Regions from separate parts of the Homo sapiens genome. Here region 2 is linked to region 1. A link means that fine-mapping ties the variant in region 1 to the expression of a gene that starts in the linked region. Tissue or cell type: lung. Region 1 holds a variant in brackets; the other region holds the start of a gene. All regions are shown on one strand. Distances are between the middles of the regions.

What was found. PIP is the estimated chance that this variant, and not a neighbour inherited with it, causes the effect.
Region 2: it holds the start of CNR1, and the variant in region 1 is fine-mapped to the expression of CNR1 in lung (TOPMed, PIP 0.93).

What each region holds. Positions count from the first base shown.
Region 1 is chr6:87,967,024-87,971,558 of GRCh38, reverse strand. No RefSeq gene overlaps it. Among named protein-coding and RNA genes, the nearest start is that of SPACA1, 79 kb to the left of the region's middle. The variant C/T (reference allele first, on the strand shown) is at 2,743.
Region 2 is chr6:88,163,902-88,168,436 of GRCh38, reverse strand. CNR1 (cannabinoid receptor 1) reads left to right here and starts at 2,090. Exons shown (of 2, transcript NM_016083.6): 1 at 2,090-2,634. RefSeq lists silencers at 964-1,163, 1,234-1,673, 1,734-2,413.

The DNA.
Region 1 (4,535 bases):
ACGTTGTTTCTTCCTCTCTCAAGAGCAGAAAATTGCTGAAACACTCATTGCTTTATTTCAGGAGCTCTACTTCTTTCTCAAGCACAGTGGGCCTTTCCTTGTCTTCATTTCTCTATCACTTTGTTTGTTTACTCATTCCACAAATGATCATTAAGCCCTAGCTACATTCCAGGTACCCTGCTAAAGGCTGGAAAAACACAACTAAGACATGTTTTCCACTTTGGAGGAGCTCCCAGTCCGGAAGGAGAGAAAGACATACAAACAAATAATCATGAAGGAATATGAACTCCAAAAAGCTATGGAAATTCAAACAAGTTTTTATACTACCTGTCAGGTAGTCAATGAACTGAAATTCCCCTCCAGGAATGATTTCCTCCTCAAAACTCACACTTGAATTACATGAGATTGCACTAGCTATCCTGGTTCTATTACTATCATTGTTCTCCCTTATCGGTTTGTTTTTTCTCTTTAATAAGCGTAGGTATTATCTAAGGTTTTATACTTGGTTTCTCCTCTGTCTGTCTTCCTTTTCTCAGTATAACATCTATTCCCTGATGTCAGTTATTGTCAGTATGAAGCTCTAACTCTGACCTGTCTCCTAAGTTTCCAATTTACTTGAAGATCCTTAAACTGGACATCACCCACACCAAATTTACAACATTCCTAACACTCTGACTTCCTCTGCTTGATTTCTTGAATTCTCTGAATGGTTCCATGACTTCCCTTATCCATGCTTTAAACCCAAGCATCACATGAGACTCTTAATTCTTACTCATCCTCACATCAAAATGAGCACATGTCCTCTCTGTTTTGCAAAGGGTAGAAGATGAAGTGAGCCTCAGAAAATTCAAGATCTCTCAGATACTATCTTCCACTGCTAGTACCTCCCATCTACAATCTTGCAATCTCCTCTCTCCTATCCCTACTGTGAAGTTCTCCTTTTCCCGGGCAATCCCTATAGGCTAGCAATCCAAAATTTCTTTAGCATTCTTCTATTTATATCACTCTTCTGCTCAAAAGTATTGATTGCTCCCCAATGCCTGCTAACTTAAGTCAAATTTCCTCATTCTGGGACTAAGTACCTTTTGCAAAATAGCCACAAACTTGTTTTTCAGCCTCTTCTCCAACTACTTGCCCATGCTAGGCATAAGATGGAGCCTGGCGGATGGTTGATGGTTTCCAAGTGGATATCCTCTTAGTCACCCCTAGATCTTTACACATACTGTCCCTCCTGCCTGGAATATCCTTCTTGCCCATCTCTGCCTAGCCCATCAAGGTCAATCGCAAACATTGCCACTTCCACACAACACCTCTTCCTAATCCCCAGTTACATTCGGCTGATTCTCCCTTCAAACCTCCAGAACTCTTTTTTGTTCACCTCTAATGGCACGAATTTTGCCCTTTTTCTACTCTGTTTGCCTTATCCCCTTCCAGATTGAAAGCTCCTTGAGGAAACAGAATGTATCTTATTCCATCTTCATTATTACCCCCAGCACTTAGAACAACACTTGTTGAATCAAACGAAATTAATCCTAGAAACACCAGACTTCTTGCTGTTGTTTCAACTACTCTTCATTTACATAAATGGGCATTGTTCTCCAAAATATTTTTAATACAAGAGCTGACCTCATTATTGCAAGGAAAAGAAAAGCAACAAAAATCTCTGCAGTGCCTGCCTTAATAATATTAACATTTACTCCCTATTTCAATTAAACCATGAAACAATTTTTTGTGTCCCTGAGTCTGTGCTGTTTGTTTAGTGCTGGAATACAGAAATCAATAAGACCTAGTCCATCACCTCAAAGAACTCAGAGTCAAATGGGAAAGACAAACTAATAAACAAATGCATTGCAATACCAGGTAATATGTACAAGACTAAACATATGGGCAAAGCATGGAGGATGGAGGCAATACTTTAATCAAGGGGATCATGAGTGTTAGAGAAAACACACGTAGATGGAGCCAGAGTTGTCCCAGAAAGTAAAGAGGGGGAGACAGAATTTCATGCATTTGCATCTGCAAAGGCCCAGGGGCATGAAATAATACAGTGTCGTAGCAGGACTGTGGCCAGTTAATTCCTGCTGCCACATAAAATACATATGGCAGTGTCTCATGGGAAGAAGATAAAGAAGTAGTTGGTAGCCACACTGCAAATAGCCCTTCATACCTTACTAAGGAGTCTCTATTTTTCCTATAGATGATAGGGAGCTGGTAAAGAGTTTTAGGAAAGGCTAAGATTCTGACACTTAAATTGGATTTTCTTAAAATTGACTCAATTCTGATTTTTTAAAAATACTAGCACTGGCTAGAAAAAGGAGGTCAAGCCAAGATCTGGAGAAAAGGACTGCATTTTCTGAGGAATATGTATGCTTAAATTTATTTTCGAATTTGTATGTTGAGGGCCCATTTCCCGGTAAACCTACCTTCTACAAGAGCTGCGGCAGCAACAGTATGGAGAGCTGATATGCACGAGGTAGTTATTCCAAACATTTTTATACATTATCTCATTTAATACACCCAACAGTCATAGGAGGTTCACGGCTCAGAGGGAGAAACTGAAACGCAGAGGAGTCCAGCAGCCGTCCAGGATTCCCCACCTAGTGAGAGGGAGATCGGGGAGGAGGGGGCCCCCTAGGTAGCCTGCGTGTCACAGCTCCATGCAGTGCTGCGAAAACTGCGGAACATATCTGCGCCTTGTTTGTTTTCCTCTTCTTTTTAATGTGAGAACAATTATGTTTACTA[C/T]GTACTTCAGAAACCGGCCCTGCAGCCCAGTGTTGATAAAGAAGGGCTCTGAGACAGGCGCTGCTAGCACCGCAAAAGCCTTCCGGCTGGGAGGGGCTCCTTGCTACTCAGCAGAGAGCCTCGCGCTGTGGAAAAGAACGCGATTGTTATTCAAAACAAAAATATTCTTACCAGCACTGAAAACTACATTTACAAGTTAAGCACACGTTTTCTAAAAGTAGAGAAGATTCCAGGAGGGAGGGAGCATCTCTCGCAGCCTGGAGGGAGGAGACATCTAATTGCCTATTCATGAGGGAGCCGGTCTCTCAGGGACTGTAACATTTCCAAACAGGCTGTGCAGAGAATGGCAGCGACTGTGAAAACAGCAGGTCGCTGAATTCAAAACCTTGATGTAAACATATACATCACAAATCTCAATGCTCGCTTTTCATCAACTGCAGAATCTGTAATGTTAGCACTGTGGATCTTATATTGTGAGCTTTTGTGTATGGGTGCAGGTACACTTACAGGCGTGGAATTCACGTATGTACAGTCCAAGATATTAATGTAATAAGAAAGGTTCCAAAAACCACGTCTGAAAATCTGCTACATTACTTTGGAGTCACAAGTCACACACATGTGTGCATGTTCATGCATGCATGTGCACACCTACACACACACACACACACAGATAATACACATCTCTGGCTTTCTCTATTTGGGGGTGTGGAGGTGTAGAGTAAATCTCCCCTCTCTTCCTTGTATTTTCCCTCAAATTGCCCAAATTTTTGTACCTTTGAAAAAGCTGTGGGTCTCTCTCTGTGTTATCTTTGTACCTTTACAAAGGAAAGAATATGTCAGAAATTAATTGAACCAAACCTGCTGCAGAAAATGGACCAGTGCCTTGCACGACAAGACTCTTGCCTCCTTCTCAAATTTGAAATTTTGACTGCCTAAAGTTGTTGTGTAATGGAACAAGAATTCTAGTGAGACTAAAATATCTGCATAGCCACTTCAGTTTCATCCTGTTCTGTCTGAATGTAGAAAAAGCTAGCACTCCTCTATGTGAAGCTTCCCCAAACCCACTGCCTTCCATTCCAGGCTCGTTATGATGAGGGTCAAAGTGAGCTCAAGAAAGGTGCCATGTGTGAAATGGTAAAATGCTCTAAGGTACAGCTCCTCATTCCTGAATATGGTTTTGCAGGGCAAGGACAGGCATAGGGACTGCCAAGTTTTGATGCTGGGTAGGTTTCTAGGACCCTTATGCAGGGGGCATGGAAATGAGGTTCTAGGGAGAGCCCAAGCGCTAACTGGAAAGCTTTGAGGTTATAAGAAGTGAGAATGATGAAAATGATACCCTCTAGATTTGGAGATGACAAATGAAGGTAGGATGGTGCCTTGGGCACAGACATAAGGAGCTTGAGACCATGCCATGCTTCAAAAGTGAGAAATGGCTAAATTCCATTAAGGATCATGGAACTACACCATGATTGCTAAAAGAAAAAAAATACTCAACTGGCTACGTATTTTAAGAAACCAAAAGTTGCTGCATGGGACTAGCCTAAAAAGAGAAGTCAGGAGGTGAAGAGGGAGAAGGCAATGATCAGTTCAGTAAATAGTGGAGTGTCAGAAGAAAAGCATCCTTTGGAGACCTGAAAGCAGGGTCAGCTTTTCAAGGATGATCTAAGCTGATACTGGAAAAAGTTAGTTTGAATGCCATTAAACATAATCCAGTGGCTAGGATGTAAGTGGGCTCCTGATGTGAAGAAGAAAGAAGTCAAAGTTAGTCTATGAAAGTAAGCGGCTTAAGGGGC
Region 2 (4,535 bases), 200 kb before region 1:
CAGTCATTTGAAACTGAGCTGCCAGGTGGAGGAGAGACTTTGAAGTTATTGTCATCTGGCCTCTTGGGAAATCAGAGTCTGCGAGGTCATAAGGAGAGAAAATTTTTGCAAATATTTCCTACTGCCAGGGGTGTGAGGTGAAGGGAAAATCTAACAACCACGACCCCTAAAAGAAAAAAGCAACAGATGTTGAAGCCTCCTCCCTTTGAATCTTGCGCTGGAGCTGTCTCTGCCATGGAGGTGGGCTAAAAATGCCTGTGAGTAGAGCCTTCCCCAAGCAGCAGGGTTAAGGCTCAGCACTAATCCCACATCTACTATCTATCTCCCAGTCATTCTTCCATCTATCGATGGGTCCATCAGAACTTTATTGATAACCTTTTCTAACCACCCACCTAGTAGGACTTAATCATTTCAGCGGTGGACTCTCTCTCTCAATGGAGTCAAATGGTCATTTGCTTGACGGAAATACTTCTAGTCTAAAGCAGTCTAGGGGGATTTTCAAAAACTGCACTAGTGCTCTGCGGGAAGCCTTTGTACGATTTGGCCTGACGTTTCCAAAACGGTTTTACAGCCTTCCCTCCTCCAGGACCTTGAACTCAACAATCTTCCTTCTTTCCCTGAGAGGCTCGCTTTCACAGATTCTCACCACGTAGTTCAAATATAGGGTCCAGATATAGTACGGTTGCTGTTGGGGTCTGATCAGGGGCGGGAAGACCTGGAGGTCGGTAAAACGGAGCGGTGCGGGATGATGTCTGGGAACACCGGCAAGGTGTCATAAAATGAACGCCAAGGCGGCCACAAGAGGACGGCCGGGAACCGAACCCAGCGCCCAGCACGGGGCCCTTGTGGCCGACGTGACGTGGCTCCGTCAGGTGGAAACCGTGCGATCCTCTCCCGATCCAACTCACGAGAGATAAAGATGTCTAAATAACCACGACCGCCGCCGCACACCCTGCAGGGCCCCGGGGGCGGAGGGGAGGGGAGCGCCTCCTCGGCAGAAGCGGCGGCCCAGGCTTGTTTGGAGGTTCGCAATTCACCATGATAAATGTAAAGACCAATTAAGGTTTGATCCGTGCACACAGGAGGCAGACGGCGGCTGATAGTGGAAACAATTAACGAGCATGTCCCCTAATTCCTGCCGCGGCTGCTGAGCACACCGCGGCTCCCCAGGCGCCCGCCGCTGCCGCCCCCGAGTCCCAGAGCCCCCAGTCCGGCCCTGGAGTGGGGCGTCCTCCTCCAGCGAAAAGGTGCGAGGAGCGGGGCCCCGGGTGGCCGGGGAGGGGGCGCGCCGGGCCGGGAGGCGCGGAGCCAGCCGCCTACGGAGCCCAACTGTTTGCATCGGGGACCGGCGGGCGGGGCGCGCCCGAGTGGTCTCGCCGGGAAAGGGCGGCGGGCGCTGGAGAAGGCGCCTGGCGCGAAGCTGGGCGGCGCCCCGAGGGCGGAGGACAGGTGGCCGCGCGACCGCAGCCAGGTAGCGAACGGCTCGGGGGCTGCGCAGCGCGGTCCCAAAGCTCAGCCCGGCCCCGGGCCCAGCTCGCTGCCGCCTGCCACGGGAGCGGCCTTGCGCGGAGGGAGGGGGCGCGAGACCGCACCCCCGGGCCCGGCGCGCCTCGGCCTCTGGGCTCCCGCTCCCCTTCCCCTTCCGGCTCAGCCCGCTGCCCCAGACGTGACCCCCGCGGAAGGTGTTGGCGATGCGCGCTGCCCGGGAGCGTGTGATTAATGGCCCCGAGGTCGTGGGCGGCGCATGCACCAGCCCCTTCTTGGCCTGGTCAGGGTGTGAGGGTATCCGGGAGCACAGCGAGGTCATGGCAGCGGGGGCCTCCGGGAGCGCGGCGGCGGAGGAGGAGGAGGAAGAGGAGAAGTAGGTGACGCGGGCCGAAGAGGCTTGTCCCCTCTGGCCCCAGGGCTGGCGCCGCGGCGGGTCCCCCGCCCCAAGCAAAGTTTGGGGCTACGGGCGCTGCGCTCAGGTCCCTCCCCGCGCAGTTCCCTCGGCGGGGTCTGTGCCGCCGCCGCTGCCAGGGCAGGACAAAGGCTCATTAACACGTGATGGGACCGCGCTTCATAAATGGGACTGGAGCGAGAGGGAGCCAGAGACAGCGCGAGCGGAGGGAGCGGCAGGGACTGCGCGAGCGGGACGAGGCGACGGGCGCCCGGGCTGGCGGAGACGGGCGGCCCCACGCCGGGCCAGGCGGGGCTCGCGGGAGGACCCAGTGAAGAGCCTGGGAAGGGGCGAGGCTCGCCGGCGGTCGGAGCAGCGGGGCGCCAGTCCCGGTCGCTGTCGCGGGCGGGCGCTGGAGACCGGGACGCCGGCGCTCGGACGGACTGACTTGCTGACCGCCCGCCGGAGGCACACCCCACTCCACCCCACCCCGCCTCGCCAGCAGCCCGGCGCCGGCGCCGCCTCCCGCACGCTACTCCCTCTGCCACCCCTTCCTTCTCCACTTCTTTTCCGCCTCCGCCTCTTCTTGTCTCCCGCGGCGCCAGCGCCTTCCCTTGGCCCGGGCGGGGGCCTCGGCTCCCTGCAGAGCTCTCCGTAGTCAGTGGGGGATATTTCGTTCTAGCGGACAACCAGCCCCTGAGCTGGGCGAGAGGTGCCAAGGGAGCTTCTGTCCCGAGGACCAGGGGATGCGAAGGGTAAGACCTGGCAGAGTTGCGTTTGGAAATACTTTTTCCGCCTCCCGCCCCCTCGGGTACGACCAGTGTGGTCCCCAAGTGTCCTTCGTGGAGTTCTTATTCCGTGTGAGCGAATCGTGCGTCGGTGTTTACTTAGCTGTATGGCCCCAGCCTGTTAACTGTGATCTGTTCTACTTCTGGAGATTTCTACCATTTACTATTTATTGAATGTGTGTGCACCTGGCTCTGTATGCACTGATGTCTGTTTGTAGAAAATGGGTAATTGTGCATGTTTGAAAAACGGGCGCTTGAGTTGGTGCTGAATGCCTATAAACCATGTTAGCAGCTAAGTCTTCCCAGGGAAATACATCGATCTCTGCTGCAAGCCTAGAAACTGACTAATGTAAAATAGTAAATGTCATATAAAGAGATGTATGTCAAATAATAAACTTTTGATAAAAAGCTACAGGAACCACTTCTCTTTGAGGAAAAACAAATGTCCATGTAACTAATACCTAAAATTGAATGTTGATGGAACCGTTTAACTCAGAACTAGCTGTTAGATGACTAAAGTTAATGTTGCATTTTTAAAAGACATTTCTTGTTAAGGCTTACAAATCATAAACGGATCACCTCTCAAATAAAAATATGTTTGCTGTAATAGACATGAGAAACTGTCATTTGGTCATTTGGAAGTTTAAAAGCAACATGCATGTTTCTGATTTTAATAGATTGTCTCTCAGATATTTAAAATTGAACAGATAAAAAAACAAAAGAAATGTTTAGTAACGTATTAATCATTTTGCCTCCCATCTTTTTTTATTTTCCTCCAAATAAGTGCTATTCTTGCCTTTGTTGTTGATTTCCTGATATAGTAAGCCTCCTCGGGCATGTAATCCAATAAGAGATTAGAACAGATTTACTGGTTTTAAAGGTGTTGAAAGATATCTCTGTGGGTCCCATAACTTCTCCTCATTTTTATTACCAAGTTAATATCTTTTGAACAATGGGGGAAATGCAATTTCTTAGAGGAAGCTTAGCGGACACTGAGTATTAGTGGGGTCACCACTGACATCAATCTATTTTGCAGAATATTGAGAAGCTCAGAGCAACCAACCTTTAAGGTTCCCATAGGACTTTATGTGATTTAAAGTGTTGCTTTTCTAATCCTACCCTACTGACAGTTTGCAAGGGAAGATACACTAATTGATTTTTCTCTGTCCTTTTTTTCCCTGGTACTCCTCCCCCTCCCCCGCTCTCTAACTCAGTTAAGAGCAATTTTATAAAAATAAAAGGCCATTTATAGTTTCTTAAGTGAGACAAATTACTTTCAGATTATATCCATACATGAGCAGAAGACATGCACCTCCAGAATTTTAAACATTGCATACTACAGGCACTTATTTGTAGGCACAATGGCAGTTACCATAGTGGGGCAAGAGACTTGATGTGGGACATGGTTTTAAAAAACTAATCCATTTTAGCTTATCAGGAGAACTTACTGTAAACCGACTCTTTTTGTTTCAAAGATGTCTCCCACTCCAGGCGAGGAGCGCTCTTGGCTGAGGTATGTATCAAGTGTCTGATGGGGAGAGGTCTCATTGTGTTTCTCAGTGTCCATGGGGGTACAATGATGCCACAAGGTGGAAATACCCAATTCTGGCCTTTCACAAATAAAATTACTGTGCTTGCATACTCGTTGTTAGGAAAGCAAATTAGATATTCATGCCCCTGAATTTTAATAACATTAATATATGTATGTAAAAAGAATGTTATGACTAGAACCTTAAATAAGCCATAAGTGATTATTATTTAGTGTGTAAAGTTTTAAATTCTGATGAACACCAGGTCTCACATTGAAGTAGTGCTTGGCTTTGTTTGTTATCCACTGTTTTCTGTCTTTTTCTGTTACCCATTTCCCA